3 linked regions of the Homo sapiens genome follow. The protein of the gene in region 2 interacts with the protein of the main gene of each other region in a pairwise test. Each region holds a gene or a part of one and is shown on either strand. Other genes may lie near its edges. The genes, in order: VWC2, KRTAP2-4 and C11orf87.

Region 1 (3,661 bases), on a different chromosome or scaffold from region 2:
TTCAACTTTTCTGTAGGTTTGAAATTTCTCTAAAAGCAAGAAAAAAAAATCCAGGGGTTGAAATCCTGTCTTCTCACCTATTGTTAACACTCAAGCTAGGATTCCCGGCTATCTAATGCCAAGACTTAGTCTATAATCAAAATTTACAGGAAAAACATGGAATATCTTGGGTAGTTAAGACGCCAAATATTTAAGCAACCCATATTTAAGCCATTCACTAAACCCCTTGACGCAGTGAGAGTTGTTGTCGTCCAGTACCCCCGACATGCAGGGCACATGGCCTGAGCGCCAGCCCTCAGCTCTCCCAGCAGACCAGAGGCGCTCACTCGGGCTCCTCAGCGGGTGTGCTGAAAGCCACACCGAGACTCTGCCAGATTCTCCATCTGCCTCTCCTTCCCCAATCCCAGAGTCTTCTTCCCCCTTTATTAGTGTTAATTAGTGGTAATTAACACTAGTAGAGTAAACTGTATTGATTTCCCTCCATCTCACAGCTGGTGTCTCAACATCATTTTTTTTTTTAAAAAAAAAACACACTCCATGCTCAAAGTCCCCCTCGTTCTTGTCTAATGGAATCCTACCTCAGGATTTCTTCATAATTAACATGCACAAGAGACCAGCCAACCCTATATAAAGTACACTCTGTGACATCTTTGTTTTAACACTGTCCACTTGCCTTTGGAGGACTGGATGTACTATGCTACAATGATTATGACATTCCTAACACAGTCATCTTGTTCTTTCAGGTCTATCCTTCAACAGCAACATCATTCCCTCTTCCAATTATTTACCTCAAGAGTTTTACAATGTGTTGTAGTAAAATCTGGATATGTACAGGTACGTGGTCGAAGGTACCCATGGAACCTCATGGCCCGCACAATTTCGACTGTCATGACAGACTCTGGGAATTGTCTGAGCACCATGACCACCCCTGTGTCACCATCCACCAACACATGCCTGCCACATACCAAACCCATGCCACACAGCTATCAAGCCTCGGTCCAGCAACCCACATGAACGGCCGACAGCATCACAAGTTAGCTCTGAATGCTCTCAACCAGGGGTCCCCACAGCATACCCTGGGCAACATCCAGAAAGCCCAGTCGCTCCTGTCAGCGAGGCCACTCAGATCCTTGTAGACTCCGGCTGTGTCCCCTCTGTCCGCTGTTTCCCAAGCTCTGCTCAGCCTCTTGTCAAACTGCCCTCCGGGCCATAATTCTCAGGCCCAGCCAGCCTGGGTATGCACTCTTGTCAAAAACCGTCTTATAGTGTAATGCCCTCAGTACCTCAGGTACAGAGTAATCATCGTTTGTCAGGATGAGGAAACACTCTCCCATGACAAATTAGGATCAAGGACATCCTGCCACTTCATTTTCATAAAGTAAGCAAGGCTTCTGATCTACCAGGGGCTCTCACTGGGAATAGGAAGGGACTCTCTTCCTGCCTAATTTGCTTATGAAAAATATTCAATTATGTTCCAAGTTTCATTCACTTAGTAATGAAAAGTAAATGAGCCCAACCAGTGTGTTTAATGTGTCTTGGAAAGATAGAAACAGCTTTGCAAGAACAAACAAAGTTAAATTAAAATAAGTGACTCTCCTCAAAGGTGGAAATTGAATTTCTCCCCAAAGAACTTCTTAACATCCATAAAACATGGTGCTGATGCCAGTAAGAGAGAGAAGGCCTTGCTACAGAACCACTGTGGCTGAAAGATTACACACGTGTGTACGCATGTGTATTGATACATAGGATGAAACTCACGTATCCGTATGTGTCCCGTCTACCATGAAGCAGCACATGGGTTGTGCATCAGGGTGGGAGGTGCACCCCGTCACCAACGGGGATCTCACATACCATTTTTGCAGATGGGACAGCACTGATCAGGCTCGTACACAGGGTCCACACACTCCGTCTGGGGACACGCTGACACTGTGCATAGCACCTCACCGTTGGCTTCACAGCGACACCTCTCGCATGGAGACACCTGAAACACAAGCCCACAATCAGCACTTTAGCCTGCTGTCATGTTTATCCTACAGGGTCATATATATTTTTTTGAAATGGAGTCTCGCTCTGTCGCTCACACTGGAGTGCAGTGGTGCGATCTCGGCTCACCGCAACCTCTGTTTCCCGAGTTCAAGCGATTCTGCTGCCTCAGCCTCCTGAGTAGCTGGGATTACAGGCACCCACCACTATGCCTGGCTAATTTATGTGTTTTTTATAGAGATGGGGTTTAACCATGTTGGCCAGGCTGGTCTTGAACTCCTGACCTCAAGTGATCTGCCCGCCTCAGCCTCCCAAAGTGCTGGGATTACAGGAGTGAGCCTGGCCCTACAGGGTCATACTTTTCTTTCCCTAAACTTTCTGCGAAGACACCTAAGTGTTTTAGGAATGTTTAAAAAATGATCCAGCCCAGTGGTTTTCAGAGTGTGGACACAGGCATGCTGGGTGTTTGGTGAGTTGTCTTAGGTGCAAACGCACAGGACGGGCCACAGGGCTATGATGTTCCCTCTCCTGTCCAGCCAGAGCCACTGTTTAATTTGTGGTCTGCATATTGGGTTTCTTATTAAACTTTTTTTTGAAGAAATGTTTTTCATCTCTTTAAAAATTAAACAAATAAAAACTTGCTGCTGAGTTCTTGCCCATCCCCTCACCACGTAGGTGAATCCCTTGTCTATAACCCTGTCAAGTCACCACCCAGACTCACATGGAACACTCCCAGTGTTTCCAGTTACGAAGACACTGGAATAGGAAAGGGGAAAGGGGTGAAGGAGGAGAAACAGGGTGGCATCCAAGCGGGGCCAAGGGCCGGGAGCTCTATGAATATTCCCTCACTGAACTTTTACAGCAGCGCTAAAATACACGTACTCAAATTACTGACCCTTTGTACTAACAGGAAACTGAGACTCAGAGGTGTTAGGCAACATGCCATGGGCATGTCTGTCCTGTGAGCACAAGGTCCTCTTCCACTGAGGGCTCCTGACTGCGAGTCCATGGTGATTCCAATTTCCTCCAGGTCATTCTGCCCACTATCCAGCATCACGATGCTCTGTTAGAAACCAAGCTTCCATTTGCCTCTCTCTACTTTCCAGCCATGGGCTCATACTCTGCCTTCTTGAGCTATCCAAATCAAGCATACCAGCCATTCCCAAGAAAGCTGTACGTGGCTAACGGGACCCTCCATGGTCACTCACACAGGGCATGGTGATTTATCTCCTGGTTACCACCAATGGAGTGATTTTTGATCTGGCTGACCCAGGACAAAGCAGGAAGAGCATATGCAGACCCAGCCATCAGAAGCAAAACTGGGAAGTGGGGATACTCACTAGAAAGACCATGGAAATGGGGGACATGGAAATGGGTCGTATCAAGCTGAGTTCCTGCTTTGCCAGGGGCAGGGAGACCCCAGTTGAGTTGTGTGCCCCACGTCCATGATACAAATACCGCTTGTAAGGTAAAGAACATGAGTAACTCTCACAGATGCTCCCTTTGTCTATACAATGCAAACACTAAAAACTGAAATCTCCACTGAGTGGACTGGCTATTACGAGAAGCAAAAGCTCAACTGGAGTTTAACCATGTCTCTTTCTGAGGCACTAGACCACAGTCAACCTGCCTGGGAGTGAGGGCTAAGGAGTGTGTGTATGTGTACTTGGCCAAAAAA
Region 2 (2,925 bases):
GGCTTCCAGGCCATGCTTGTTAAGCCCTCAAGGAGCTCAAATCCTGGTCTTCCTCTGAAATAATGGTCCTGAAATTCTAATGAATTACATGGAAGTGATAGAAAATAAACAGCCTTGGGCCCCACTCCCAGAGATTTTGATTCATTAGGTTTGGTTTGGGGCCTAAGAATGTGCATTTTAATAGGCAATTGCAAGAGATTCTATTGTGTATGACGCATGGGCCACACTTTGAAAAATGCTACTCTAGGAACTGTGGTAAGAAGATGAGATGCGCTGTGCTGGTCAGTTTACTACCAGTGGTCATTCTGGGCTTGGCATATGCTATTCCCACTTCTACCCCTCTTCATGAACATTGTCTTTCCTTTTGTCTATTCCATTAGACCATAAGCTTCTTGGATACAAGGCATGTAGCTTGTTCATCACTAATCAGGCAGCACCTGTCAACTGGAGGTCCCTTGATAAACAATTCCTGAATGACTGAATAGATGAGATTTCTATGGATAAGGTTTTGCTTAGGTTGAGCTTTGTTTCCCTTGTGCAGGTTCCAAAATCTTGCTTATCTGTGTACGCTAATAAACATGCACTAACGAACAAATCAGGGAGCAGGGCAGTCTGCTATGCCAGGAAAAATTAGTTTATTGACAACAGTGAGCAACACATTGCAAAAGATGATGGTGACAGTTTGAGCAGTAAAAACCATCAGGTTGTAGAATGTGTTTGCAAAGTCCACCCCAGGAATTCTTAAAGGTCGATTTACTATCCATAATGACTAAGGCTGATGTAGACACCTGAAAATGTGGGTGAGGGTGGTAATGGACGTCTGCTTACACCAGGCTGTATCCAGATGGTAAAAATCACTATTGTCACCTTGTGAAAAAAAATCTATTTTTCTTTTAACTTTTTAAAAACACCAGATAGATGTTTAGGCTTCAGTGTATTGCTCTGTGGGGGCATTGGGGTCTCAGCAGGAGGAGGTCCTGCAGGTGGTGCTGCAAGGGGTCGGCTGGCCGCAGGGGGGCCGGCAGCAGGGGGACTGCACAGACACAGGCTGGCAGCAGGTGGTGGCCCAGCAGCAGGGCCTGCACACCACAGCCGTGCACGACGAGGGGCAGCAGGTGATGGGGCGGCAGCAGCCTTCCTGCAGGGAGCAGGGGTCGCAGCACACCGGGCGGCGGCAGGGCTCGCAGATGGGGCGCGTGCAGCGGGGCACGCAGGTCACGGGGCGGCACACGGTGGTCTGGCAGGTCACGGGGCGGCAGCAGCAGGGGTCGCGGCAGCAGCAGGGCTGGCAGCAGCCTCCCCCGTAGCTCAGGGAGGACAAGGTGGAGCCGCAGCAGGAGCCGGTCATGGTGGTGTCTGAGGCTGGTGTGGGTTGGGCTATTGAGAGGAGCTGGATGTTCTCAGGTGTGAATGTCCTCCTCCCCCTCTGGGCCCTTTATATACCCTGGCTGGGAGCTGATGACCCTTCAACATATGATCATTTTCTTGTGCATCTTCTGGCCAATTAAGTGAAGATTTAGCATTGACTAATGGTATTTTGGTCACTCTTCACCTCATACATATTCATGTACATACACCACAAATATTCGCTCATTTTCTTGTATTGTTTATCCTCACTAAATTTAGACATTGGATTCACTTCTGATTAATTTTCCTTTGAAATATTCCTAACCCATAAGAGAGAAAAGAATGTGTTTTCTAAATTAGTGTCTAATCGCTCTGCCCTTTGGCGCTAAAATTAGCATGTTCTTCCTTGTCTTCAAAGGCTCCCATCACCGGCACCCAAGCAGTGACTTGCCTTATTAATGCACATGGGCATGATGGTAGCAGGTTAATTGCATCATCCTAGTGCAGACCAGTAGTCATCTGCTTCACAGATAGCTCCTTCCATGACTCACTTAAAGATAGGCTTGTGGTTTTTCATATGAGCAGGGACCACACGAAATGCAGATCCCTGGCCACTGGTGTGGTCACTCTCCCCTGACTAGGACCTGGGCTTTCCTGCCTTGGTTTTGATGTGTCATCATTCACCTGGAATGCCCTCCTCATCCTTCCAATCCAAACTCAACTTCTACCTTGATTGTAAAACCCTCTTCAAGGATCCATTGCAATTATTATATTTGTAATTTGTTTGGAATTAGTCGTTGCATCTGTAGAGTCCGGGAAGGGATTGCGGAGAATATGTAGGCCTATGCCCTCACTCTACAGCTGAGGTCCTGAGAGTGTACCAAGGTCACACAATGAGGTCACCATATGAGGTCTGAGATCCAGGTCTCCTCAGTCTGCAGTAAGTAGCCTCTACTATGAGTTTTATGCTCATTGGATTCAGTAAACCATGGTCTTTAGACAGGAAAGAAAACATATATTAAAGTAGAAGCCCAGACTTCATGCCACTATGCAATATATCCATGTAACAATGCTGCATTTGAACCTCTTACATTTATACATATTAAACACAGATTTAAAAAAATAAGTAATGAACTTTCCTTTCAGCAGCAAGGTTAGAAGTGGTACTGGAAGAGAATTAGGGAAATGTTTTGCCCAGATGACACATTGTCATCCTGGACCCCCATTGACTCCACTAAGTATGACAATGTGTCTGAGAGCTAGAGAAGGGACCTGGAGAAAGCTAACATGATGCAGGGTTTATTAGTGGAACTTACATACAAGGGTGGTCCAGTGGTGGTATCTGGACAGGAGAACTGCTATTATTTGTAAAAAGCATGCAGTTCACACAGTATTTTCATTAGAACCCTCCACCTAACAACCTCCATTTAATCCAAAACAAAGGGCCTCAATCCCCAGTATGACCTGTGTTCTAATGGATGAGGTGGGGATTCAAATGTCCTTCATAGATAAGGAGTGGATCTCCAAGTTGGCCACTCCCAGATCCTTAGCTCAGAACTCCAAGCATACATTCTTCTT
Region 3 (3,601 bases), on a different chromosome or scaffold from region 2:
TATAGATGGCCGGGGTCAGGATGTATGAGTTTGAGATGGAGGGCAAAGGTCCACGGTGTAAAATTGCTGTGGTAAATGTCAACACAAAAGCCAGTAGGACAATAGCACTTCAAACTAGGGAGCAGATCCTTTTCAGCAGGGTTAAGCTAGGATCCTTCAGAATTTACAGAAGTTGGAGGCTACCTTTCCCCTAACTGGCACAGAATCATGTCAGCCACATCCCTTCCTAATATACCTGATTATATTATAGTAGAGAAGTAGAGGCAGAGCAAGAGGAAATCTGAGAATTTAAGCATATGACCTCAAGATCCTGAGCATCTGTGTAAAGGAGCTGCTACATTATTATACTGGACTGTTTATTGGGTTGTCCTAAATTTTATACACATCCCATTTCTAAGATGTAGTTGGTTTGTGAGGAAGAGCAGATGAGTTATAAAAATTTTTTGAAAACAATATAATTTCTTTGAGCATCTGAGTATAATAGAATAAGCAATTATGTTATCCTGGTATATTGTACATTAAATTGGCAAGGAAATAGTGTCCAAAAAGCCAATTAACAAGAAAACTCTTTTATTGATAGAAAAGCAAAACAAAATTTCCATGAATTCTAATATCTTTTTTCTTCTATCTATTGGATATACTCAAGTTCAAAAGTCAGTTTTTCTGTTGTCATCATTGTCACTGTTGTTGCTGTTCATCTCTCTATAGAAACAATCCCTTGTAATCACAACTGTAAGGGAAATATCCCTACCACAAATGGGTAGGACCTCCTTGATAAGTCATTGTCTCCAAATAAAGTTGATTAAATTCTTATTGTCAGCTAAGCATTCATACATGACACCAATTGTATTATTAGGTTGAAGACATTAATAAGTATTGATGTCAAGCCACATTAGCTGTTTCTCAAATGTTATCAAATAAATAACCAAATCAGAATCAGATTTACATTCATTCCAATGATTAAACACTCTCTTATAGATTGGGCAATTTATTCTAATATGAACTGAAACATCTGTGAGTTACAATCACAAGTTCCAACAAAAAATGGCCCAAATAAGTAGGCCTTTCAGATTCAAATTCAAAGTTCAGATTCACATGGGAATGGGACTAAGGAACCTGATCAGATTATATTAAAATTTCTGGTTCTACTTTAACCTGTAACTTCCACATAATATCAGCTAGCAATTGTTCAACTTTCACCCACAGAAAAGCATGAAAGCATATGTCTACATGATAAAAAAATAAAAATTTAACCATTATCTAATTAATACAATTGATACAGATAGAAATGGTGGAAAAGTCAGATGTCAAAGAAGTTTCTTAAAGCTAATTTATCCATATTATCCAAAAATGATTTCTCAAACTAAACAGATAATGGTCATATTTTCACTTTACCTTTAGCTATGCAGATATAAATTGTATTTCTACACAACATATAGGTTGAAAATGAAAAAAATCAAACCACAATCCAGGTTCCAGGTTTGTGGTCTAGATGGCCCTAAACCTCTTCTGGATATTTTTGCTTTCCATCTAGATATTTAGACCACATTGATATGGTCATAACTTTATTATCATTGCTACATTTGAGTCACTAACCTAGGAAAGGAAGCTTATCTAATTACCAATTTTCCAAGCTAACCAGGACTCTCCCCTTTCATTATTAAAGAGAAAGTCATTCAGATTTGACCCCAGAGAAACAAGTGCATGCACATACCGGACTTTTCAGTATCCTCTTTGGGTAAGAGGATGGAACAACTATTTTGGTTTCCATCTCATTCTTGTAATGACAGAAAAGAGAATACAAAAAGTCAATTGTAAATTTATACAAAACGTATGCATATATAAATACATATCTATGGGTGTATATAAAGTCTAAATATTATATCCATCTACATCTTCAAGATTCAGAGTCTTGTACCGTTGACATAATAGTATTCTCTCTCCAAATTTTCTCATTTTTAAAAACAATAAGAATCAAGCATGCCACCTTATTAATACTGAATAGCAAGTGCAGAAGTTAAGCTGTAGCTATAGGGGTTTGAAGCATTTAGTTTGACGGGACATCAGTGAATAAAATCCTTAAAATAAATTTAGCTATTTCCAGATTGCCTTTTGTTTCATAAAAATGAAAACCTAAATGCCCTGTTGGTAGCATCCCAAGCTCCTGAGACTGCCAATTGAGCCCTATAAGAAGCAGTGCTTTAAACAAGGTCTGTACAAATTGCTTGGATATGTGCTTATTGAAATAATTTTGTGTGGAAACTGGATTACTAGAATTTCATGTAATTCTCTATCTCATAAAAAAATCACAAGTAATACCACTGGAAGCTTAGGTTTTGAGTATATTAAGCTCAGTATGAAATCTGACTCACAAACTGCATCATCTTTACACAGAGCACTATTAAAAATATTAAACTACAGTCAATTAATGGAGAAAGGCACACACATTTAAAGTTGCACAATAAAAGTGTATTACAGATGTGTGCCCACGTTGAGAGGTATTGAGATCATTTGTTTTACAATATACATAATGCTTTTATTTCTCTTGCTCCTTGCATTCCTTTGGGGAGAAATGATGTAGGACAATTTCATAATTACCCCCACAGAGTGTACAGGCTGCTCCTTGGAAGGGGATTATTATTGCATGCCTTGAATATACTATGATTCATAAGGCAAGAACATATGCGTAGCTTCAGCACCAAGAAAATGGAATCGTTATCCAGCACTGCTCACAACAGAACATCTTATTGCTTTAATAAAATGGGAAATTATTCGCTGTAGAAAGTGCACCAAATAAGGGAAAGAAAGTAATATCCATGCACTTATTGGAGCTCATTGGAAATGATGAAGCTCCCTTCTGGGACCCTGATTCTATTCAAATTTCAAGTCCAAAAGTCATTCTGTAATAAGGTATTAAAGAGCTACCACTGGATGAGGGTAAGCTACAAAAATCAATGGACTTTCTTCTTCACAGTGCCTTAGTCATTCTGATGTACAGTGTAGAACTCTGATGCACTACAGGATTCCCTAGTGGCCTGAGGGAGTTAATGCACTCTTTTACCTATTACTAGGAAGTGACTAAGGCACTGGAGAAAAACTGGTTCATTGTTTAATATATTGTACCCAAAGATTATACCTGGTCTTCCTAATATTACAAGATGGCATGCTTCAATGATGATCTTCTGTGCTTCAGGAAAGGTGATTATCTTATGGGTGATTAAAATTAAGTTTATTAAATTATTTTTATAAAAGATGCAAACTGAGCTTGGGCAATTTAATAGATGACCAAAAATATTAGAGGTAATGTTTCCTCTGGATAAGAGCACATATGTCTGGACCAAGTAGACAATTTAGAACAATGAGTTGCTTGGGAGAGGGATGCTCATAGGGGCACTGTTGCCTTACACCCTGCAGGATAGTAAGGACTCTCTTGGTAGAGCTTTTTGCAGATCACTTTCATTCATACATTTTCCAAAAATTTGAATAGCTGTCAAAGGCTTGATTTCCAAGAAGAGATGTCACTGCATATAATTAATATTGTAATATGCTTCTGGCTTCTTCTGTCATTCAACCAAAGGAAACAAGGTGGTAAATAACTATA

The links.
Region 1: the proteins of KRTAP2-4 (region 2) and VWC2 interact in binary tests that used the Homo sapiens proteins (3 or more experiments, as listed by UniProt).
Region 3: the proteins of KRTAP2-4 (region 2) and C11orf87 interact in binary tests that used the Homo sapiens proteins (3 or more experiments, as listed by UniProt).

Annotation. Positions count from the first base shown.
Region 1 is NC_000007.14:49,801,031-49,804,691, reverse strand, and holds part of VWC2 (brorin precursor), read right to left. Parts: intron 1,982-3,661; coding exon 1,852-1,981; intron 1-1,851. UniProt on the Homo sapiens protein: BMP antagonist which may play a role in neural development. Promotes cell adhesion.
Region 2 is NC_000017.11:41,064,498-41,067,422, forward strand, and holds KRTAP2-4 (keratin-associated protein 2-4), read right to left. Parts: upstream 1,383-2,925; 5' UTR 1,349-1,382; coding exon 962-1,348; 3' UTR 619-961; downstream 1-618.
Region 3 is NC_000011.10:109,426,067-109,429,667, reverse strand, and holds the end of C11orf87 (uncharacterized protein C11orf87 precursor), read right to left. Parts: 3' UTR 501-3,601; downstream 1-500.